Regions from separate parts of the Homo sapiens genome. Here regions 2 and 3 are each linked to region 1. Evidence: fine-mapped expression QTL. A gene starts in region 1. Each other region holds a variant in brackets. All regions are shown on one strand. Distances are from middle to middle.

The links. PIP is the estimated chance that this variant, and not a neighbour inherited with it, causes the effect.
Region 2: its variant is fine-mapped to the expression of ATP5F1E in whole blood (Lepik 2017, PIP 0.95).
Region 3: its variant is fine-mapped to the expression of ATP5F1E in lung (TOPMed, PIP 0.97).

The regions. Positions count from the first base shown.
Region 1 is chr20:59,028,036-59,036,387 of GRCh38, reverse strand. ATP5F1E (ATP synthase F1 subunit epsilon) reads left to right here and starts at 4,053. Exons shown (of 3, transcript NM_006886.4): 1 at 4,053-4,168; 2 at 5,959-6,085; 3 at 7,547-8,352. The coding sequence starts at 4,137. The coding sequence ends at 6,082. It overlaps PRELID3B (PRELI domain containing 3B), which reads left to right. Exons shown (of 6, transcript NM_016045.3): 6 at 1,262-3,243. The coding sequence ends at 1,381. It overlaps SLMO2-ATP5E (SLMO2-ATP5E readthrough), which reads left to right. Exons shown (of 6, transcript NR_037930.1): 4 at 1,262-1,416; 5 at 5,959-6,085; 6 at 7,547-7,710. RefSeq lists a silencer at 3,810-4,099 and enhancers at 4,120-4,259, 7,044-7,574.
Region 2 is chr20:59,812,896-59,821,247 of GRCh38, reverse strand. All of the region lies in intron 8 of PHACTR3 (phosphatase and actin regulator 3), which reads right to left. Among named protein-coding and RNA genes, the nearest start is that of SYCP2, 120 kb to the left of the region's middle. The variant C/T (reference allele first, on the strand shown) is at 5,176.
Region 3 is chr20:59,369,344-59,377,695 of GRCh38, reverse strand. No RefSeq gene overlaps it. Among named protein-coding and RNA genes, the nearest start is that of EDN3, 73 kb to the right of the region's middle. RefSeq lists an enhancer at 1,331-1,832. The variant C/T (reference allele first, on the strand shown) is at 3,978.

The DNA.
Region 1 (8,352 bases):
TAAGCTGACCCTTGCCCATTCTACCATAGGAAACTGCAGCACGTTGGGCAGTTACTTACAAAGGCTCTGGGTTCACATCCAAGCTCTAACTTTTAGCCTTTTAACCTTGGGCAACTAAGTTAACCTTTCTATGCCTCAGTTTCCCGTTTTTAAAGTGGAGATTACCCGTTTTACAGGGTTGGCGTGGAGTGAATGAGATAACATATGGAAAGTGTGTAGCCTGAGGCCCAGCACTGAGGAAGTGCTCGATGATGTGTAGCTGCGTGTCATTTAAGGCACTGTTTCTCAACCTTTTTTCACTGTTGTCTCCCCCACAACTCGTTTTAGACATTTTTTCCCTAATTGCCACCTCCATTAAGTCATATATCATATACATATGTGTGGGCTTTATACATAAAAGAGGGAGATTTTTTCCATCCCCCCAAGAACCAATTTTTGCTTATTGAGAATGCATGATCTGAAACAGTAAGTTTAGAGAAAGATGCCATGCACTGTTACATAACACATGGTGAATGTGGTTATCAAGAGATACTCATGGATGCCTTCTCTGTGCCATGCAGAGTGCTAGGCTAGACAGGGTATACAGCAGGGAGCAAAACAAATGTGGTCCCTGCCCCCGTGGAACTAAGAGGCAGGTGACATTAATCATACAGCATGTAATTAGGAAAGAAAAGGTACAGAAAGGTATGAGAGTGCTTATTGAGTGTTCAGTAACTGATGTTTCTGCTGACTGCCAAATGGGGGCAGGTGGATTGCGAGGGGTATTCCAAGAAGAGTGTTCTAGGTGGAGGAGCTGCGTGTGCAAAGGCCCTGAGACAGGAAGTAGGGAATGCTCTGTTTTTCAAGGAACTATATAGAACACTAGGAGAGAAGGGGTGAGGAGTGAGTTGAGGACCAGATCCTGCAGGACCTTGCACAGGATTTTGGTTTAAAATGTAAAGAAAAGGGATTTGACCTTCTTGCCCCTAAAAAGGGGACCACTATAATCATGAAACAAATAAGACATTCTGTCATTTAATTGTAGATTCATTTGAGAACATCTTTTGCATACAAAGTAAAAGTCAGTTTATGGATCAAGCCAGTTGCTCAAGGCATTTGATGTTTGCTAAATAACATTAGAAAAAGCCAGGACAAAAACGATCTGTCATCCTGAGATTGAGTTAAACTTGTCACGCCCCTTGTTACTTCCTGGTGTGTCATTAGTTCGATATATGCCTTTGCTCTCCCTCAGTAACAATAAATGTATTGGATTTTTTTTAAGGGCCGAGAAGCAATGGAATGGGTAATACATAAATTAAATGCTGAGATTGAAGAACTGACAGCCTCAGCAAGAGGAACCATAAGGACTCCAATGGCAGCAGCAGCGTTTGCAGAGAAGTGATCGTGACAGTTGGTAGACAACATCGGGTACTCCAGGTCTCTCCAAACTGACTATATATTTATTTGTTATTTTAAAAATACAACTATATTTTGGGTAGTTTTTTTTTTTTTTTTTTTGATAAGTTGGTGTAAGGCTATGTGACTTGATCAAAACAGATGCAGGGCCTCTAAATAAAAGGGATCATCTGAAATTAATGTTGTTTGAAATTACTATCTGATTTTGAGGGTTCCAGTATTTCTGTGAAAATTCAACAAGAACTCCTTGGAAACTGGTATTGATATTCAGTCTCCTTAAGGTAGATTTTTCAAGCTTTTCATACATTGGAACTCCACCTGACTTTGGACCAACCCCAGAACAGAGCAGAGCCACCTCCTATAGACGCCCATTGCCCTGCTGCTGTACACTTCAGCAGCTTGCACAAGGGAGCTCACTTAAAAGGAGAAATTGTGTAGTTTTAAAATATATTTTGTGTAAAATACCTTACTATGCTATAAACCACCATTAAAAACCAGTGTTTTGATTTGGTACTTAAATATTTTTGGAGTGAAAATTATCACTAAAGTAACATGACTCCAACAAAAGTATGGTTTCATTATAAAAGAGTACTGTATTGATTTGCCCAAGTTTTGTAACTTAGTAAAGGTATTAACTTCCTTGGATTTGTACTTTGTGATTTAGTATGCTGTATCGTGGGCTGGTTATGTTAACTGAAAAAAATAAAGTCATTACCTGAGTTTTGCAGTGCTCTAACTTAAACAGAAGAACAGCTGTTCACATCTTTTAGCATTTTACATTTGCCTAACTTAAAAATTGCCATGTGTCAAAATCATGGTTTTGTAATTGCTAAGGCATGATATGTCAGGTTATTTGAATATAATTACTTTTTGAAGTAATTGTGACCACAAAACATCTTTTTTACATGAAGGAGCTGTGTATCATTTGAAATTACTCAAATGATGTCTTGCTCTGAGGCATAAATCCCAGGTACTTAGTGTTTTTAATAATATGGTGCCACTGCAGGATTTGGGGGCGGTGGGGAAGAACAAGCATAATGGTAGGGGGAGGCTTGGCCTGAAACTAACCACTGAGTGAATTGCACTGCAGGTTTTACTTAACGGGAATTCCTTATTTGGGATGTCAAGAGGGCAGCTGCAAACTGAAAAACAATCCAGTAAATGTACTTTGTTTTATGTATTGTAGCAGGCAATTAACTACTAAATAATAGCTTTGACATTTGCAATTGTTGCATAGAGACTATTTTTGCTAGAAGATGATTAGCTCTTGCCTTTATTTTACAGTGCTTAGTGTGATAAACTTCTAGTCATGTTTCCTATCCAAGAGACCAGTTAATATATGTACATAAACCACAGAAATAGTATAACACACTATTTTTAAATTATCGTTTTCCTACTTAAATTTTGTTTAGCTTAAGACTTCTTAGGACATTTGTAAAAGCAGGTTAAATTTAATAAGGTTTCTGATTTTTTTTTGTAACCGGAGATAGTTTTTACAAGTGAAATAACATTTCAGCTAAATAAAACATCGCTAAATAATTGATATTTGATGAAAATCTGCTTTGTATAATTTCTGTAAATTATCCTTGTTCTGAAAAAGGTGTAATGCCCTAATATTTTTAAATCCTTATCCTTTGATTTTTTAAAAACTGACCTATTGATAAAACTATAAATTTTCATTTTCCAGTGCAGTTAGTTACCTTTTTAAACATAAATGCACAACAAGCAAATGAATTTAAGAGAACTAAACTGGAATAAGTGTTCATAAATGAAACCCTTGGACTATTTAATAAAGTTGAAATGTGAATTAAGGAAAACTTTTGTTAATAAAAACTTTCTTTTAAGTGATGTTTTTCCTGATTATAATTTCTTTTTAGTAATTAAAGGTGAAGGGCAAAGGCTTTTTTTTCTTTATGAGAGAAACACTTTAATTCCTAGACTGTGAGCCTTCACTGCGTTGGGTTAGTTTCTCTAAATCACAGGCTCTGAGATGAGCATTTTCCCGGCCGCCTGGCAGTTCCCTGTGCCTCCAGTGGGTTTTCCTCACATTTTTCTTCCCATCCATTCCGGGCAACAGTGACAACTGTTGCCTTACCCTCCGTCTTGTCGCACATCGGAAGCAGGTCCTAGAACTACAGAAAACGCTAGGGGGTCCTCCACTGGGTTTCCAGGGTTTAGTGTCACTCCGAGAAAGGGGGTGCCCTAAGAGCCTTTCTAAATCTCAGCTCTCAGGACACGCTTGTCTGTCCACAGATTTAAAAAAGCCGGCGCCGTTTCCCTGAAGCGGGCGCAAAGCCAGGCCCTCGGGGCGGCCGTGCCCGCGCCGCCTCGCGTCCTCGCTTCCCGAAAGCACGCGGCTCAGTGGTCCTTAGCGAGCGGGGACACCCCGGCCTTCTTGCCCCCGTCGTCCCCGCCGGGGTAATACGGAAGGTCGGGGGACACACGCCCCGGGAGCTCTTGGAGCCAATAGGTGGGCGCGGCCGGCCGGCCCGCCCCGGGATTGGCACCCGCAGTCCAGACCGCGCGCGCCCATTGGCTCCCGGCGCCGGGGGGCTTCCGCGGCAGGGCAGCAGGGGCCGTGCTCAGGGGCGGGGCCGGGTAGGAGGCGGTGATTGGCAGGTCCGCACGCCCCGCCTCTTCCGCTTCTGTGGTCTGATCTTCCTGCGGCTGAACCGCCCGGCTGAGCCGACATTGCCGGCGTCTTGGCGATTCGGCCCGACGAGCTCCGCTTTCGCTACAGCATGGTGGCCTACTGGAGACAGGCTGGACTCAGGTAGGCCCAGGCCTCCAGAGGGAAGGGCTTCGCGAGCCGGCCCGCGCGCATCCCGGTGCCCAGAGGTCATGCAGGACACAGAGCAGCGGCCCCACGCGTGACCGGGGTTGGGCCAAGCCTCGGGCGTCGCCGCCAAGATGGCGTCGCTGTGGGCAAAGCGCTCAGGCGGGCGCGGCCTCGACCTCGCGTGGGAGCGCGTCTGTGTCCTGCCTCGCTTCCCGACGGTGCGGCCCAGCACCCACAGAGTGCCCCTGGACACCTTTGTGAATGGCAGGTTTCTCGAGAGAGAGGCCAGCTCTTATTTAGCAAACCTTTTTCTTCTAGAATGGTGCTGGAGCCAGGTGGTGAAAGTAGTACAGTCACATCCACCTCGGGAAACAGGAGATTTCTCTCCACGTGACCGCCGTTAGCAGCTTTGACCTTTAATCCAGCATCGAGGTGGAGCCTTTTACAACTTTACACATTTTTTTTTTAAACTTTTAAGTCCTGTTGATTTCAGGTTTCCTTATGTCTAAAAGGGGTGAAAGCCATAACTGTCGAGAGCCCCTCACAAAGATGAGAGGTGGCTCCTGGAAAGCTCAAATATGGAACCCACTTGAGGACATGGTGTCTCATAGTGGAACCGCAAACCATTGGTCTAGCTGTCACATCCGATTTTTTTTTACCCGTGCACCTGAGTGAGCAGAAGTACCTTGCTCTAGGTGACACACCTTGTTAGTTGACTGGATGGTGTAGCACTTTACATTTTGTGGGTACACTACAGCGGAGCTTCCCGACTTGCTGAGGTCAAGCCAGCGAAGTCTTGTAGAATTGGAAGGATGGAAGGATGATAGTCCCAGTAGTAGATACCGTTTATTAGGCAACCTACCCTGTGATCCATACTTTTTCACACTTGTTTTTCCTCCTCCCAGCTATCAGCAGGACAGGTATTATTGTCCTTTTATTCTGTTGTTTTTTTCAGGTGAGTGAGTAAACGTGCTGAAAAGGTTGAACAGCCTGAAGGTCACCCAGTTAGTAAGAATGGAAGCAGGCATTGGAACTCATACCTCTGAGTCCCCAAAATAAATTCTAAAACATGAGAAAATAGCACCCCTCCCCGCTTCCTGTTTTTCAAAAGTGGGAAAGGTGATCTGACATCTTTTGGAAACTACAGTGTTGATGGGAGTCCATCTACCAAACAGGAAGCAGGTTTTACAGTTTTGCTAGAATTGATGATGTTCTCTAAGCACTTTTCAGTTTGATTTAGAAATCTTCATTAGGAGGTTATTTTCAGTGGCAGACTTGTGAGACAGAATTCAGTATTCTCAGAGAAGAGTTTAAATAATTTAGAACGAATTGTTTTAATTCAAAATAGTTTTCTCTTATGTATACCTCATTTTCCAAGAATAATATAATTAAAGTTTTAAGGAGAGAAATCGAGGAGAGAATTCATGATTCATGTTATAGTCTCTAAACATTTCAGTCTCTTTTTTTCTATGCTGTGGGATTTTTAAAAACATTTATGCATCTTTCATTTTGAATTAATATACACTAAAGAGAAAACACAGTACAAAGAAGAAAAATCAAAGATCATCCATCCAAACACCAGTTAATACTTTGGTACATTTTTTTCTAGTTCTTTTTCTTTGTATAGATACTTTTTGGCATTAGTCATATTTTTAAATCCAATTCTACAATAAGGTACAACCAAACCAAAATAAAAAGTACAGGAAGAAAAGCGAAAACACAGTAACAGCTGTCTGGCTGGAATATTGATAATTAACCATATACCTTCTCTCATTTTCTCCCAGCTACATCCGATACTCCCAGATCTGTGCAAAAGCAGTGAGAGATGCACTGAAGACAGAATTCAAAGCAAATGCTGAGAAGACTTCTGGCAGCAACGTAAAAATTGTGAAAGTAAAGAAGGAATAATCTGTAAGTTATGGATTTATTTAGAAGAACAGTTGCATCTTAAGTTTTTGGAGCACCATAAAGATCAAAATAATTTTAGTTTTGGGTTCTATTCATTTTTTAGTCAGTGTATTTGGAAGTTAGTTATTGGGATGGTATAATTTAAAGCATGCAGGTTATAGAAGTCCCCTGGCCTAATAAAAAGAAAGTCTTCTTGGGCCCTGACAAGCAGAAGTAATTGGCACATTGATTTTCAGTTCATTTAGCAATGCTTAGGTAGAGAGCCATCGTATTTGAATTAAACCTGTTTCATTTGTCTGCACAAATCAAATAATTTGGAGGATGAACTCCCCACTTGTATAATTGCAATTGGAGTTACATAACAGTCCAAGAGCATGAAAAACTACAGTTCTTTACATTTTTATTTCCCCCACAACCACTAATGTTCTCACAAATCACTACTTCCCGAACATAATAACTACAGGCACAGGCAAGGGTCCTGCTGTTGTATCAAGCAATAAAATCTGCAAGACCCCGCAGCGAATACTGTTTTGCTAATTTATTATGCTTTCAGAGGGTTTGGTTCATTTTACTTTTCCAAAGATGTTGGTGATGTAAAGTTAAATTCTCGTGAAATAAAAAGGTCTGTACAGTTGATAAGTGTAGACTTTTGTGTTCCACATTATAAAAGTGGTTTGATCTCTAAAGTACTTTCTTGACATTGTTATTTCAAAAGTAGGCAAGGCAAATTATCAGAGAGATGTTTTTCAGATTTAATTTTTCTTGTTTTGCTTTTAAAAAGCTTCAGACCCATAATAGCACAGAAATGTGATAAATATTAATCCTTTGGCAGCTTATGGTTATGAGCAATTTTACTTATTGGAACTGTCTCCCCTAAGCACTTTTCATTTTCATTTTGAATTAGTAAATATTTTATTACAAGTCTGGAGATGCAGTGTTTTGAATTTAGCCCTTTTTCTAGGGGCTCTCTGTCTAATCTCATAATTCTGAGTAATGAGACCTGGTTTTATGTTGGGTTGTTTTGTTTTAACAGTAAGCTAACAGAAAATCATTTAGCCTCACTCGGCTCAGAGCTGCCAGACTGCATCTAATGCTGAGATTTTGCAAAGTCCTGGGGGTCAGGAAGTAGTGTCCGATCCCCTTAAACAAAGCATTAGCCCCTCTCTGTTATGCCCTTCAGGGTTACAGACCCCACCTCATTAGCACAAGGAGATGTTAGTGTCTTTTAAAGGCAAAGTAGTTTCTTTATTCTGGGAGAGTGTTTACTTTTACTCAGCAGGAAAATGCCTGCTTGACTAAGCCTGTGTACTTGAACCAGCACTTTTTACATCTGAGCCACGGCAATGTGAATGATAGCCACAGTTATACAGTTCACTATAAGGAAGTTATTTCTTATATTCATGTTGAGTTTTTAAGAAAACACAGAGAACTAGCCAGCAACTTGCATTTTCTTTTTCCTCCTAGACCCTGACTAAAGCTTGAAATGCTACATTTCCAAGGTGAAGATGTGTGGGCACATGTTATGGCAGATTGAAAAGGATCTCATTCCATGGGAAAAAAAAAAATCCTGTCTTGTTCATAAATTGACAATGTCAATAAATTGAAATATGGTTCACTGTTACTCTTGATTTTAGTTTGTGAGACTTTTTCATTTTCTTTAAAGGAACTGTCTGCACAGCTGCATGATTATGGCCATGTGAACCAGGGTTTCTTAAAAGCAGGGGAAGCCAGATTTAATATTTAGTGACCAAAGGGATACAGAAAGCATTTTGAAAATGTCTCAAAATAGTTGTTTCATGACATTAATTGGTGATCAAAATTATCTGCTGTCATTGAGGCTTCGTAGTCCCTTATTTTTGAATTGTTGTCATGTCAGAATAATGACATGGTTATCAGTAACAAATGGAAATAATTATTAAATACTAAAAGTGTAGATTAGAAGAAGAAATACTAAATTGTACTTGTTTTGTATTGTGCACTTAAAGCCTATAGATAAGAACGGTTACAGAATTTAAGCACAAAGTGTTTTTCACATTGTTTTGTAAATGAATCTTTATACTCTGGTAGCATTTCTCATAGGAAATGAGGCAAAGCTATTGAATAACTTGCTCATTGAGTTGATGGCCAAACTGAAATTAAAACCTAGGAGTTTTGACTGCAAGTCTGGGACACGGTGACCACAACAGCAGTTTCGTGGTATTTCCATAGTGATTCATTCATTCATTATTTAGGGATGAAAAATTGTTGCAAGTTATGTTTTTATCTTTCTT
Region 2 (8,352 bases), 780 kb before region 1:
CGGTCTGGAGTCGGCCCACCTGGGTCACATCTCAGCTCCACTAGCTTACTAGCTGTGTGACTTTGAGCATCTTACCCAATCTCTCTGGGCCTCCATTTCCTTAGCTGCTAAGAACATCCAATAATAGCATTTACGTCTTATGTTTATATGAATGCAGGCAAACACCACCCCTCATACATAACATGGGTTTCATACATGTTAGTGAGCTATGGTTGTGCTCTTATTACCATGACTACTACTCACACACGCTAAGCCCCGATCCTGGGTGAAGCAGGACTGTGTGGTATTTAGTCCCTGCAAGCATCTGAGCAGGCAGACATCACACACCCATTTCAAGGCTTGGACTCACCATGTGACTTCCCTGGGCTCACTCAGCCCATGGCTCTCAGCCAGGCAGCCTCCAAGTCCACCAAACCACCTGCTCCCTGGTTTGGGAATCATGTTTTATTGACACTGAATGGGGGTTGATGTTGTTTTGCATTTTCTTACAAAACATGCTGTACCATCCTCTACAGATTCCCAAGCAACCAAGGAAAACAAACAGCAGCTGACCCTCCCTGGAGCCCTCAGCAGGGACAGGGCCACTTCATATTGACACTGCACAGAAGGGGCCTGAGCCTCTCCCCTGCACAGGATGGGACTCGGGACCCACTCCCTGTACCCTGCATGCCACACACAGATGGGCTTTCCCTCCCTGTACACGGGGACTTCCACCCAAGACGATGAAGCGTCATATTTATATCCTCTGGGGCTGAGATTTGCCAGTTTAAACTTGTCCCAATTTGGAAGCTGTGTGTTCTGTTGCTTAGCTACCTCCATCTAAAAGCAGAACGTACAAGATCCATACATGATAGCCACCATTTTGCCTGATCCGTGCTGGCCTTGCCTGCCCCGGCCTTTGCAGGACTACCAGGCCCCTCCCTTTAGGGCTGAGGTTGATTTCTGCCCACAATACCACACAGAGCCTGCTCACAGCACTGCCTCGTGAGCTCCTTCGCATTTTTGCAACAAATCCTTGAAAGTGCCCTCATAAATCTTGGTGGTCTTCTTGACCTTGGAGGCTCTGCAGTGTTCACAGGCAGACCCCTCACCACAGTGGTGAAGCAGGAGGTGGTGCCACGCCAAGAGCTCAGGAAGGTGCATCTGTGCAGAACAGACCTGATCTCCACTTGCCCTGAGATTTCTAAACAAAGAGAGACCGGAAGCCCCAGCAACGGTCCCCCTGGAGGGCTGGGAAAGTCAGTCGGATAAATCTGCAGCATCAAAAAAAGGAAGAAAATCATAAATTGCTAAATGCCAACAGCTTCTGTTCTTGGGATCTCGGAATCCAAAGAAGGCTATAGATGGCAGAGCCCTGCATGCCTCAGCTGACGTGTGGCCAGTACCGGTACAGCACCGGCCCAACCAGGTGCCTCAGTTGATGGGTGGCCAGTACCGGGACAGCACCGGCCCAGCCAGGTGCCTCAGCTGACGGGTGGCCAGTACCGGGACAGCACCGGCCCAATCAGGTGCCTCAGTTGACGGGTGGCCAGTACTGGGACAGCACTGGCCCAACCAGGTGCCTCAGTTGACGGGTGGCCAGTACTGGGACAGCACCGGCCCAACCAGGCCACACACGGGGGTGGCAACCTGAGCTGGACCTGTGGGATCTGCAGGGTCCCGGCTCAGACTCACCTTCCCACCATTTTGTTTTCTTTTTTTTTTTTTTTTTAACGACAGGGTCTCAATCTGTTGCCCGGGCTGGAGTGCAATGGCACCATCATAGTTCACTGCAGCCTCTAACTCCTAGGCTCAAGCCATCCTCTCTCCCTCCTGAGCCTCCCAAGTAGCTGAGATCACAGGTGTGCACCACCATGCCTAGCTGTTTTTAAATTTCTATTTTTTGTAGAGATGGAGTCTGGCTGTGTTGCCCAGGCTGATCTGGAAAATAGCAGGAAGATAAGAGGGAGGTGCCTCAGTCCCGTGGGCAGTTGGTGACTCAGGCACCTTCCTCTTATCTGCCTGTGGGCACCCAGGTCTGGTGACCAGCCTGGGCAACACAGCAAGTGATCCTGGACTCAAGCGATTCTCCTGCCTCGGCTTCCCAAAGTTCTGGGATTGCGGGAATGAGCCACTGCGCCCAGCCCCCACCATTCTCAAGAGTCCTCTTCACTCCAGGCACGATCAGACTCAGCAGAGGCTCCGGAACCTGCTTTAGATGTGGGCTTCATTCCCTTCATAGGCCAAGCCCCCAGACGTCAAGGGGATTGAGAGCCCAAGTTCCCCGAGTGTCTCCTAGGGAGCAAAGATGGGGCAAATTCGTGATTATGGAAATGATGAAAATGATGATGAGGATAAAAATGTTGACAAAGTTGTTGCTAAAGATGATGGAAAGATAATGAGGAAGAAAAAGATGAAAATGACAAAGATGATGATAAACAAGCAGTGAAGGTGATGATAGTGATGAAGATAAAATGATGACAATGAAAAGATGCCGAAGCAGAAGAAAAGGATCTGAAGAAGATCAAGTTGGTGAAGCAAAGGGAATGGTGACACCAATAACTGGTCATGTTTAGGAGATGCCTTCCCATGCAGTTTCCCCTTCGTCCCTGCAGCAGTAGCTGCAAAATCACCGAGTACCCACAGGACTCAGTACCATTCTAGGGACTGGAGATACAGCTGAGAGGGAGAGGCTTCTTTTTGGAGTGAGGAAAATATCTTAAAATCGATTGTGCTGATGGAAATACAACTCTATGAGTATGTTGGAAGCCCTGAATTGGACACTTAAAGTGCGTGAAGCATGTGGTGTGTGAATTATGTCTCAACAAAGCTGTTAAAACTGAAAGAGACAAATTCCCTATCCTCATGGAACTCAGATTTCTTCCTTTTCTTCCTGGAGAGCTTCCTCTCTGCCAGGCATGATTCCAGGCATTCTACGTGTGACGGCTCATTGCATCCTTCCCGTGGCCCCAAAAGACAGGCTCTGTTGTAGTCACATCCCTTTTACAGAGGAGGAAAGTAAGGCGCATGTCAGGAGGTGACTTCCCCATGCCCACATGCTGGAAAACTGCAGAGCTGGCTGGGAACCGAGGCATTCTGTCCATCCTGACTTCTCAGCGGTGCACTGTGCGGCTTCCTTAGAGCAAGGGTGGAGCTGAGAGGGCCGCACACAAGGGCCCCCTCACATATGCGAGGAAGGAGACAGGTTCGCTGAGGCTCCCTAGGATACTGACAGTGGTAGCCCTGGAGGCTTCCGCTGCTGACAGTCACTTTACAGGATGACCCATTTATTTTCCCTGCTAACTCAAGAGTTGAAAATCCCCTTAACCTCAGTGTAAAGAAACATGTACTTCTCCCAATACAAGTGCATAAGTGACTTCACATCAGAGGTGGCCAGTGGGTGGTCCCGGGCCAAATCTGGTCCACAAATATGTTTTCTGGGTGCACACATTGCTTTTAAAAATAGGAAGAGGCTCTCAACATTTACATGAAGGCTATTTCACCAAAAAAATCAAATCTTCGGTTTCTCTTGGAAATTCTGGCCACAATGGCCTGACATGTGGCCAGGGGTGATGGCCCACAGGATCTGAGTGACAGCTGCCCTCTTGAGCAAGAGTGCACACTCCCCAGGATGCCACAGCCCTGCCTGGCCCAGGTCACTTATGGAGCATTTGGGTCTGTGACTTCTACTCTGTTGAATGAGCTGTGAAGACACCATCCCCCACCCGCCTCCTGTGGCGAGTCATGGGTTAATACTATTGGTCTTACTCATTCCGATAAAGCTTTCTCTCCTATTCCTCCTGACAAGTGCTCAGAAAGCTTTAGGAGTAGCTTGTTTCCACCAGAGACTTCCTTCCAGTGAGGGTGAAGTGGAGGCTTCTGGAGTATCCTCACCTGAGGGCCTAAGGACCTGCAGCTCAGAAATAGCCCAGGCTGGTCAGCAGCCAGACGGCAGTGGTGTCGCCAGAAGCGTATGCAGACCCTGGCCTGGAGACAGCACAGAACCAGTCTCCAAAATTGGCAATGGCCACTGAGGTCCTGAGGGCTCACACTATTCACAAATACACTTCTGAATAGGTTGGTTATAATCAATGTAGTAAATGGAATCATTGCTTAAATGTATCCAAAGAGCCCACTATGCAAAGAGAGATATTCATTCAATAAACACTTATTGTACTGAACTAAACTCTTATTTTATTGAAATAAACTCTTAGGAAATTCCATCTAACCCACTGTGCGTGCTGAGACAGTTGCATGGATGGATGGACAGATATTAGGGTACATCAAGCACAGTGAATAGGATGCCATTTAGTTCAACAATGTCTCCATTCACCTCCTCATCCATCTAACTACACAACATCCCACCACTTATCCACCCATCTACCTATTCATCCAGCTGTCTCTCCATCTACCTATACTCATGCATCTTATAATGCAATTACCCCAGCAGCCATTAACCTGTTCAATCATCCCACCATCCAGATGGCCATCCATCTAACTACCCAACCACCCACCTATCCAATCATACAATCATCCATCTATCCATCTAACCAACCATCCATTCAACAGTAATTAGCTGGGAGCCTACTGTGTACCAGGCACTGAGGATAAAACATTGAAGAAGTTTCTTCCTTCCTTAAAGGAAAGTCTACTGCCTAGGTGGAGGATAATTTGAACCAGAGGATGGCCATGGATGAGTTCCAGGGAGTTGTGAAATAGGCTAAGGAAAAGGACTTTGAGCTGGAAAGACTCAGGTTCATGTCCTCACTCAGCTACTCACTGGCTACTAACAATTCTGAGCCTCCATTTCCTCACATGCAAAGTGGAGGCTGTGAGGCCTATCACACAGGAAGGAAATACTGTCATGGACCCAGAGTCCCCAGCGTGCAGACTGCTCTAGAACAGGGGTCCCAACCCCAGTACCCATCTGGGGCAACCTAGCCTATTAGGAACCTGGCCACACAGCAGGAGGTGAGTAGTGGCGAGCAAGCATTACTGCCTTAGCTCCACCTCCTGTCAGATCAGCAGCAGCATTCGATTCTCAGCAGATTGTGAACTACGCATATGAGGGATCTGGGTTGCACACTTCTTATGAGAATCTAATGCCTGATGATCCATCCCTGTTTCCCATCACCTCCAGATGGGACCATCTAGTTGCAGGAAAACAAGCTCAGGGCTCCCACTGATTCTATATTA[C/T]AGTGAGTTGTATAATAACTTCATTATATATTACAATGTAATAATAATAGAGATAAACTGTACAATAAAGGTAATGTGCTTGAATCATCCCAAAACCATCCTCCTCCCTGGTCCATGGAAAAACTGTCTTCCATGAAACTGGTTCCTGGTACAAAAATGGATGGGGACTGCTGCTCTAGACAATGGTGGCTATGCAAGGAGAAATTCCCACAACCATAGGAGATGTTTGCACACCTGACATGCTTAAAACTCTCATCCAGTTCGCAGACCCATGATCCATAAAGATAAATGATCACAAGCCTCATCGCCTGTTTTGCAACCTTGGGGTTCACTATAAAACAGGAAACCCAAGCCAGGCGTGGTGGCTTACGCCTGCAATCCCAGCACTTTGGGAGGCCAAGGCAGGCGGATCATGAGGTCAAGAGATCAAGACCATCCTGGCCAACATGGTGAAACACTGTTTCTACTAAAAATACAAAAGTTAGCTGGGCATGGTGGTGCACACCTGTAATCCCAGCTAATTGGGAGGCTGAGGCAGGAGAATCGCTTGAACCCAGAAGGCAGAGGTTACAGTGAGCCGAGATCACGCCACTGCACTCCAGCCTGGAGACAGAGTGAGAGTCCATCTCAAAAAAAAAAACAAAAAAAAAAAAACCAGAACCCCAAGTACAGCTGAGTCTTTCCTGCCACAACTGCATTTCTTTTGGCTGAAGATGCCCAGCTGTTGGCATTTTGATCAAGAACGATCCTGGGTATGATGAGTTCCTTGTTCGTCTCTGCATTTACCTTCTTTCTGGTGATCCCTTTGGAAATTGTCCCACTGGCAATTTCAGAGACTGAGCAGACAAATGTGCTTTTGAATATCAGGAAGCCAAATTCCCCCCGATGAGGTCCCTCCTCATGTGTACACCACACTGGGAGAACAGTCTGGGCTTTGCTCCTTGAAGACTGTTCATTAACAAGAACCCTCTTCGAGTCGAGGGTTCCCTGAACTTCCCAGTCCAGCCTGGGTCCACAGGGACAGTCCCAAGGTCTGGCTTGTGAGATGTCTCACCTCTGAAGTCGGGGAACTCAGCCCCCAACTCCCTTCTCAGCAATATGAGGGAATCTCACCCTCCCCCCACCTCCTGTTTGATCCAAACAGAAGCCCTTTACCCTTGATGTACCCAACCTAAAACCCCAAATTATTCAGCAAGGCCCAACCGCGGAGGCCCCACAGGCTTCAGAACAAGAAAAAATGGGTTTCCAGACCCCAGTGTCTTCAGATTGTGCTTTTAAAAAAAGCTTAACACTGCTCCATTCCCGAGAGACAGATAGGGCTTATTTCACTGGAACACACAGAAGCCTGTTGTGGTTCCTGGCGGTCAGTGAAAAACAACCACTCCCTTCTGTCCAAGTGTGTGAAACTGGAGGGAAGATAGTGTAGAAGAAAATGGACCAAGGATAACAGGAAGTACAGGACCGTATAAAACACCACGACGGGCTCTGAATACCCTCGACCTCAGCTGAGATCAGCAAGTCCAGCATGGACCGGGCAGTCTCCCGTTCCAGTCCCTGTGCTCCTTGGGCAGTCTCACCTGCACAAGTGGATGGAAGCACTGCCAAAAACCCCAGGCACCTGACGGCATAGGGACCCTTTGGACATATAACCTTTCCCCTGTGTCTGCCTGCCTTCTTCCTGGATTCCCTCTCCACCATTGCAGATCCACCCACCCCTAGGCTGGCAGGCCCTCCTCCCTCAGCCACAGGCCTGCCGTTCATCCTCACCAGCTCTGCCGTCCTCTCTGCAGCCCCGCGTCCCCAGGATGGTGCTGGCTCCTGGGCCTGTAGCATGTGAGAAACCCTTGTCTCCCCACCCAGCTCTAGCCTTGCTCTCCCAAACCAGCCCTGCACTGCAGCAGAGGGGCGTTTCCCAGACATGCCCTCGCTCCTGACCCCCAGGGAGCCCTGGCTGCTTCTCGGGAGAGCCAGGCCTCCTCATCTGCCATTTCCCACCAGCTTAGCCAGCGCCTCCTTGGTGGGCAAGGCCCTCACAGAAGAGCAGAGCAGGGCCCCGCCACGCCAGTGGGCACACCCTGAAGAGGCGAACAGAACAGATGAGTAAACGGCACTTTCAGCAGCTGTGGAAGTGGCTAAAAACACAGCAGGGGACGATGTGACACAGGGTAATGGCGAGGCTGTGCCACTGGGAGATGGTCAGGAAGGTGACATCTGAGCTGAGCCCAGAATGACAAGAGGAGGTCTGTGTGGATTGGGAACCCATAGCGGGCAGCACAGGAGCCTCCACCACCTGGACCCATGGCCCCTCCAGTCTTCTCCCTCTGCCCTGCCACCCTCACCCAGCCCTGAACCTTCTCAGCCCCCAGGGTAGTCCTGGGAAGGCGGTGCTGCTTCCCACCTTCGAGCTCTCACTGGCTGGTCTGCCTGGGACACCCTCACCCTCCCTCCTGAAGCTGGTCCACACATCTATCTCTGTACATCTTTCACCAGACACAATAATTTATCACCTGTGAGTGCATCTTTTCATCTCTGCACCCCAGCGCCTAGCACGTGCACGCTACATGAATTCGAAATCTCTGTAATTGGGGGGTAAGCACCCCAAGAGATGGGCAATGACATTGGATGTGACAGGATCAACTGGGCCCGTTCTGCAGGTGCAGCCTCCCCCTGTAGGTAATTTCAAATGCTACCTTCCATCCCAGCAGCCATGGATTAACCCTGAGGCAGAAGGCAAACTTTGCAGCCTTTTCAGGGCGGCAATGATAACTGTGACAAGAGAAACCGTCAGCGCTTGCGGCAGCTCAGCCCTGCTCCGGGAGTGACCCATGTCAGGTGTGTTCGCTCCTCAGTGAGGGTCTTGGGGAAGGTAGTAAGATCCATGAAGGAGCCTGTGTGCAGCACCCACACCATACCGAGCACAGAACTTCAGGGTTGCAGACATCAGCGGGCAAAGGACTCAGCCCAGTGAACGTGGACCATAACCACCTCATTAACACAAACATTCACCGGAAACTGGCCTTTAGCTATAGTGTATCATCAGCTTCCCGGCCCTGTCCACAAGGTGTGAGCCGGATGCTTGGCCTCAGGCAGCAAGGCTCAGTGGCTGGGAGCGAGGGCCCTGGAGCCCACAGCCTGGCCATTCATGAACTGTGAGACCCAGGGACACTGCTTAGCCTC
Region 3 (8,352 bases), 340 kb before region 1:
TCATTATGCAAAATTATGCATAGAATATGTGTATGAATGGAATATCCCTAGAATGATGTTCAAAAGATTATTATCTATTGTCTCTGAGAAGGGGGACGGGAGAACCAGGAAAGGATAGAAATGGATTTTGGTGTCTCTCTTTTGCTATTTTTTGAAGCTGTTAGCATATGCTTGCACATCTCACGTAACACATTTATTCACACATTGACATGGCATAATATAGCATGCCAAGTTGATCATGGCCTTCAAAATCAGACAGGCCTGGCTTGAGGGCCAACTCTACCACTTCATGCCTACTGGTGACCAAGTCTCGGTTTCTTCATCTGTCAAATAGGGAGAATCCTGGTCTCACGAAGCTGCCGAGAGTTCAGTGTGCAGGAGGCTTGGGTCTTGGACAGCACACAGGGAATGGTGGTTGCTTTGCCAGCTGCCCTTGTGGAAGCAGCCGGGGGTGATTTTCTTTGCCTACATGTGAGTACACTCAGACAGCTGAGGTGTCTGACATGGTTTTACTTTTAAAGGTCAGAAGCAGATCTGAGGATTGCAAGGCCTCATCTGTTCCAGGAAGCACATGGTCTCAGCTGCTCCACAGACGCTTCCTGCTCCTCTTTGCTGGACTTAGAGCTCTCCTGGTGACTTCTCGACCACACTCCAGGATTGTTTGTTATGTCTTCACTGTTCTGCCCGTTTCATCTCGCGTCCAGGCCGTCCATCACTGAGGACATTCACAGAATGCTCCCCTGATCTCCTTTGCAGACAATGTTCAATGTGATCTTAGGCAAGTTTCTCAGCTACTAGCTCCACTTCTCCACTGTAGTTTGGAGATCTGATTTCAAACTTGGTGGCTGTGATACTTAAATGATGGAGTCAGTCTAGCATTGTGCAAGCAATCGAGAAATGGTCATCATCATCGCCATCACTATTGTCACCCTCCTCATCATTCTAAAATGTATTATGAGTGAGTTGGCTTGAAATGTCCCTCATGGGAGCCTGAGAGAGTAAGAAACAGGCAGGGGGCAAAAGGAACCCACGACATGATTTGCAGAGCTCTGGCAGCGTGCCAGGGAGCTGCTGTGAACGAGGCCAAGACCAGCAAGCTGACCTTTCCCTGCGCTTTGGGATTTTTAAGGAGTGAGATATTGAGGTCGAGGGGTGGCCCCCCTGTGGCTCAGGGCTGTCTATCAGGATTGACCTTGCACTGGGCAGTGGGGAAATAAATCGATCTTGCATCAATCACTATAACCTTTCCCCATGCCCGGCTGAGGCTCTTCTTGCCAGGTGGTGGCCATCTTAGCCAGCAGCAAGTGGCCTGGCCCAGCCGACTTGCCTGAGCAGATCCCTGCAACACACACCTGAATGGAGACTCCAGGCCCTTGGGAGTCAGCTGTGGGGCTTGGCTGTGGGCCCTGTGAGGCAAGGCCTTTGCAATCCTGACACGTGGTTCAATGGAGACAAAGGAGTCAACCTGGAGAACAGAGGACCTGCTACCTCCCCTTGTCCTTGCTTGATCCCTAACCGGACTGCTTAATCCAGAAACTGAGGGCTTTGAGGGGCTAGGACTTCCCACGAGGGCTATTCTGAGTGGCACATGGCCCTGCCCTCCCTGGCGGCACTTCTCTTTCTAAGGTGACCTCTGCTGTGTGTACTGAGACCCCTGCTAGCAGCTCCCCACTCATCCCAACTCATGGAGCCACCAGCTGTTTTTTGACTTTGTCCATAGAGTATCCCAGGTGAAAGCAACCAAGCTTAATCATAATACAATACTATCCTTTGTTTCATAAATTAAACCACAATGCCACACCATTACATTCACATAAGAATGACAAGAATTAAAAAGACCATTGAAACCAAGCCTTGGCAAGGATCTGGAGCAACAGGAACTCTCAGAAGCTGCTGAGAGTCATGGGAAATGGCACAACCACGTTGGAGCTTTCTGTTTTTAATAAAATCTATACAGTAATCATTGTGCAGCCCAGCAATTCCACTCCTAGGAGTTTATCCAAGAGAAATCAGAACATATGCACAAATTCCTGATGGTTTAATTCATAGCAGCCTCAAACTGCGAACAACCCACATATTCCTCAATAGCAGGATGGTAAACAGATTCAGGGATGTTCATACAATAAAATGCTAGCGAGAAAAAAAATAACAGGCCAAGCACAATGGGTCACACCTGTAATCCCATCACTTTGGGAGGCTGAGGTAGAAAGATTGCTTGAGCCCAGGAGTTTGAGACCAGCCTGGGCAACATAGTGAGACCCCATCTCTAAAAAAAATTTTTTTTAATTAGCTGGGCATGGTGCTGCACAGCTGTTGTGGTCCCAGCTATTCAGGAGGATGAGGCAGGAGGATCACTTGAATCCAGGAGGTTGAGGCTGCAGTGAGCCATGATTGTGCTACTGCACTCCAGCCTGGGCAGCAGACTGAGATTCTGCAGAAAGAAAAGAAAGAGAGAAAGGAAAGAAAGAAAGAACAAAAGAAAGAAGGGAAGAAAGAGAGAGAAGGAAAGAAGGAAAGAAGGATGGAAGGGAAAAGAAGGGAAGGGAAGAATGGAAGAAGAGAAGGGAAGGGAAGGGGAGAGAAAAAGGGCAGGTGGGTGGGAGAAAGGAAGACATAACCACTTGCTAATACAACACAGATGATTCTTAGAGCCTTAGGTGGAGTGACAGACCCAGGCATGAACGAGTACATCTGCATCATCCCACCCATATGAAGTTCTAGAACAGGCAAAATTAACCTGTAGTAAAGAAATCAGAATATTGTTTGCCTCTGAGTAGCCAGGGTTGAGGTGGTGTGATATCACCTGGAGGAGGAGGGGACAAGGGAACTTTCTGGAGTGATAAAACACCACACATCTTGATTGGGATGGTGATTACATGAGTATATACATAGAATTTATAAAACCGTAAACTTATAATTTGAGTATTCTATTGAATGTAAATATACCTCAAACAAACAAAAAAGTGGGGAAAGAACTTCACATTTCCCAAGGCCAGATTTTTACCCAGCTTCTTTATCAATGTCTCTGAAATTTCAATTGTATTCCCTCTGCATGCAAAGACCCCACTGGCAGGGTCCTTCTATCTTTCAAGTGTATGGACTTAAAAAGTGCATCCTTTAAACCATTTGCAGGAAAAAGGAAGCTGAGAATAGTTTAGAGCTATTCTGAAGATGTGGTTGACATGCATGGAATTGTTCTGTATACATTCACACTTCTGGATGTTTTATTGCCTAATAAGGAGAAAGTTATACATGCCATTTCTCAGCCTTGGAATTCCTGTTGGAGCAATATATCGAGGCAGAGGAGAGTCTGTGTTATCAGTGATGGAATTTTGTTTATGGGGGCAAAAGGTACCCTGGAGCCTGCCTGGTAGTCTGGTGTAAGGAACAGCTCTCAGGTGATTGATGAAATGGCTTAATTGCTCAAGAAGCTGGATGTGCTGGCTGTGCCCTAGCAGGGGCTGAGCCCTCCAGAGCCAGAACACAAACACCTCTGTGGAGTTTGTTGGAGTTGGTCTTGACCTTGCTGCCCATTCCCATCACTGAAAGTTTGCTTGTTCTGCCCCCTACCCCACCACAACTCCTACCCCACAACACTTTTTTTTTCTTCCTGAAAATGGGGTCTTGCCAGCTTGGGGGTTGCCCAAGCTGGTCTTGAACTCCTGGACTCAAGTGATCCTCCCACCTCTGGTTCCCTAAGTACTGGGATTACAGGAGTGAGCCCCACTCCTGCCCCCAACCCCCAAGGAGGAGGAGGAGGCATCTCCTCCTCTTTCCTGAAAAATTCACAAAGAAGTCTCACCTCTTTTGCCTGTTAGAACCTCGCTGTAGCCCTGAGAGATGGGGTCACTAGCTCCATCATGCAGGGAGAATGGTGAGGCTCCAGAGTGGCTGAGTAGAACCCGTGAAGCTCAAACAGTGAAGAGTGGTTGAGCCAGGCAACCACTCAGCATGTCGCCTCCATCGTCATTGCCCGC[C/T]GGCCCACTTCCCTCCAACTATGCAAATCCTCCATCTGCTTTTCTCCAGAAATCTCTACTCATGTCTCTGTCCAAGCTCTGTCTGCCTCCTTCCATAGTACAATTCCTTGAACTGTTTACCATTTGATGTGAGCTCATCTCATAACACCTGGTTGATTCTCAACGTTTTTGAAATCTGCTCCTGAATTTGAGTTCCCAGAGCTGAACTGATTTGGGGAGAAGGATGGAATGGGGCCACAGAATGCTTAATAATATGGATTGATTGACTGATTGATTCATACCCTATTGGCAACCTGTTTTATGAGTCTCCTGGGGCATACACTCTTCCTGATTAGCATTTTTACTCCATCAACTAAGGATGCTGTGTATGATCTCACCATGTCAGCTCAAGAGCAAGCTCTAACGAATGTTTACTGTCTGCTTTGGAAGTGTGCATGCTGATCCTGGATCCCAGTTTTGAGAGGCCAAGTTGTGAAATGTCAAATGCCACATGCAATGCAAACACACTGGGGAGAGCCTGTGTAAATCAATTACAATAAGGTCACTAGCATTTAGGTGAAGGCAGTGCTACTGAAGGTGATGAGATCTGGAGGGTTTTGCTCAACAACAAGGTCATTTTGCCTTCATCAATCTATCGACCATTTTTCTCCCTGGAACTAAACAATAAAGTATGTTGCCCAAGTAAAAATGCTGTGGTAAAATATCCTTATCACTCAAGTAAGGCTCCTAAAGTGTCAAGTAGGAGGATGGGGGGAGGGTAGAGACAGATGGCTCTGGAATCATTCTGTTTGTCCTGACGCCATGAAGTTTCTAGCAGGTGCTTGGGTTTCTGAAGTTCTGGGTCTCCTTCTTTGCCTCTAATTCAACACCCTCCTCCTACTTTGTCAGTACCATAGGTTGTTATTATTTTCCTTTCTTGATATTTTTAAAAATCCATGTGCTTGGGAAAGCCGACAGAGCAGAAGGGTGCCACCCTGTGAATGGGAATAACCCTGCCATGTAATAGAGGCCAAGTGTGGCTCTACCTCAGACCTTGGTGGCGTCTTCAGCTCTAGCCCCAACTTCAATCTTAAACCAAAGCCTGAATGAGCCACAGCCCAGCCCAGGCCGGCCCTGGCTGGCCCAGCAAAGTGGTCTCATCCCTCGCCATCACCCCAGATGGAGCTGCCGAATTCACAGAGAAGGCATGTGCTCTTCAAGCAGCCAACACTATTAACTCATGGAACAAGTAAATTAGATTCGTGATGCTAAAAATTAAAAATGATGCTAACTCTTCTTTCAAAATGCTGACCCTAAATACAAACTTAAATTAAAATGCATGGAAGAAGAGGATGAGAGAAGGCTGTAAGGAAAGTGGGACCCAGTGAAATTGGGGGCACGAGGCAGTAGCTCCCCACAACCCCATGCCCAAAGAAAACCCCCACTTTAGAAAGTCCTTAACGTGCAAATTTCTGACACCAAATGGAAGCACCAACATCAACAATAAAAGGTGAACTGTGACTGTAAATAATGTAAGCTTCTTAGGCCCCTCCAGGGCAGAGCAGGGCTCCTCTCTGGGTTGAAGCTGAAGGCACCTGCTCAGTGGCAGAGCCTCTAATTGGGAATGTAATGGGTCTCCAGTCCTGGGCTAACCAGCAGTCCCTGGGGCAGTGACGCAGGCTGCTCCCCTCCTGAATTCGCCTGAGCGCCAGCACAGAGTGGCCCTTCCTCACCATCTAGTTTCATTGTCTAAAAATGTGACTGAAATGACAGCAGGATACTCCCCCCTGGGGTCCAAAGGGGTGACTGTGGTGCTGAAAGGCTCTGTGGACACTGGGCCTTTGGAAATGGCCAAAGCAGCAGCCTCCTTTTCCATGAGAAAGAGCCCCAAAGATTAAGCAGATATGGCTTGTTTTGGCCAAGCAAACTTGGGAGTTGAAGGTATCGGGATAAAGGATGTCAAGTTTCACAGTTCTGAAAACAAGTTCATCTCCAGCCAGCTGAGGAAGTCCAGGCCAAGGTCACAATCTGGTTGTTCAGCTGTCTGCACACACAGGACGGAGGCACCCACGCCCCTGGCTGTGGGCCAGGAGAGGCTACTTTATCTGTGGTTTGTCTTCTCAACATGGGGATATCGGAAGCACGCATGGAAGAGGTCAGGGAGAGAGGAAGGAAAGAGACCTGCATGTGGGGAGCTAGGCTCTCTCCCCCTCTTCCCATCTCTTTCTCATTCTTCCAAGAAACGAGCCAATGGGAAGATTCTGTTGGTCAATACTGGAAAATCTAGCAGTGACTGAAGAGGCCCAATACAATACACGAAGGGCTACGTGGACACAGCGCCTGGGCCATCCGGTTCTGGGAGTCGCAGACACAGGACTGGTGGTGCAGGGTCTCCTCCAGGACAAGGGACAGCATGTGTCACCGCTTCCTCCTGGTGTGAATGTGGGAGCAAGAGAGGTTATGATCTTTAAACACAGGGACTAATTGACTCTTGGACATGTATTCAGTGTGGCCCGGCCTTCCTTTCTCCTTCTTGAGTGTCGAAGACTCATCCTGAATTGGGAGTCGGATTGTCTATCCCCAGACATGATCTGAGCATCAGTGTTCCCAGCCACCTTTCTTATAGGCTGTGCTGTAGCCACAGGGGCCTCCCCTGGCCTCCTCAAACATCCCAGAGCATGCTTGCCTCAAGGCCCTTGCATTTGTTCCTCCTCCAGCAACATGCTTCTGCACGAACTGTATGTTGCTCTAGTCCCAACACAACTGTCACTCCCTTGGGGAGGCTTCGTTAACCTCCCATCTGAAGCACCCCCCATCCAGGCAAGTACCCCTCAGCCGCATCATCTTGTTTATTCTCTTGTTCTATTCTCTTCATAGCACTAGCTGCTATCTGAAATTATCATGTTTATTTATTGGCTGACTTTATTCTCTGTCCCCACATGCTCCCTTGAATGGGGAGCCATATGAAGGCAGAAATCGTATCATTTTGCTTACCATCGTACCCTCAGTGTCTGAAAAATAATTGTTGTATTACTGAATGAATGAAGGGTTGTTTTGAGGGTGAAATTTATAATAGACACCAATGGGTTTTGTGTACTTGTCAATAAATGTCACATTTATTATTGTTGTCAGTTATTATATTACTTATTATAGATTAGGCATGATTCTTTAAATAAGGCATTACCGTTCCTGACTCCTTGTCAGGGGTGGCCAGGCTCTCTCCTCGCCTAAGTCACTCTCCCTCCAGGGAAGCTTCAGGACTCTCCGGTCTACTTTGCCCTGCCTCCTTGGAAAGCCTGTGTCATGCACTGTTTATACTCCCCAGCTAAATGGCCAGTCCCTTGCCTTGTATCTCTAAGTACATGAAAGGCTCTCAGTAGCAAGTTGATGAGAAGTAGGGTGACTATTAGATTTGTGCAAAATTTTCATTAATTTGAATGCGGTTTTGATGGCATAATAGCCATGGTCTATCCATATCCCAGCTTGGCCCCACTACCCCTTCCCAGCAAGGCTCCTGAAGGGGACCTACACATACAAAGAATACCATTAAAATGAGGATGAGGCAAACTTTATTATTACCTGGGCAAGCGTCTAATACCTCCCAATGCAGAGCTCTGGAAGAGTTTCAAGGGACACTATAGCTTAGGCTCAAGAAGTCTTATTTCACCTGGGAACCCAGTTTCAAATTTTACTGCTGGGCATTGCCAAATTGAAACAGTACATATTATATTAAGCAAGAGGATCAGAGGGAGATGTAGTCATTAATTTGTTGAATGCATTCATCCCCATCAAGAAGGAAGATCAAAAATAGTTTGTCATTCACTTGGCATGGACAACAGGGTACATTTACAGTCTTGCCTGAGCACTATATTAATTCTCCTGTTCTCTGTCCTTCTGAAGGAACCTGGATTATAGGGATATTCCACTGAACATCACATTGGTTCCGTGATATCTGACATATCATGCTAATTGGACTGGATGAGCAAGAAACGGCAAGTTGGAACTCTTGGGAAGGCACATGTGTTCCAAAGGATGGGAGAGCCTGACCTCTACAAAGGTCCAGCCATGTCAGTACAGTGGTCCAGTAGAGTGGTCCAGTCATCTGGGGGCATAACAGCACATCCTCTCCAAATAAAAAACAAATTATTGCATCTCATACTTTTTACCACAAAGATGAAAGGATAACACTGGAAGACCTCTGTGGGACCTGAAGATGCATGTTCCATACTTTGGAAAACTACTCCAACTAATTTAGTGAGTGGTACACAAGGCTGCCCATTCCAGTGGGGATCAAAGCAGAAAAAAGCTGTGCAGCAGGTCAAGGCTGCAGCATAAGTGGCCCTGCTGCTCAGATCATATGACCCAGCTGAACTTATTATACTAGAGGTGTCAGCAA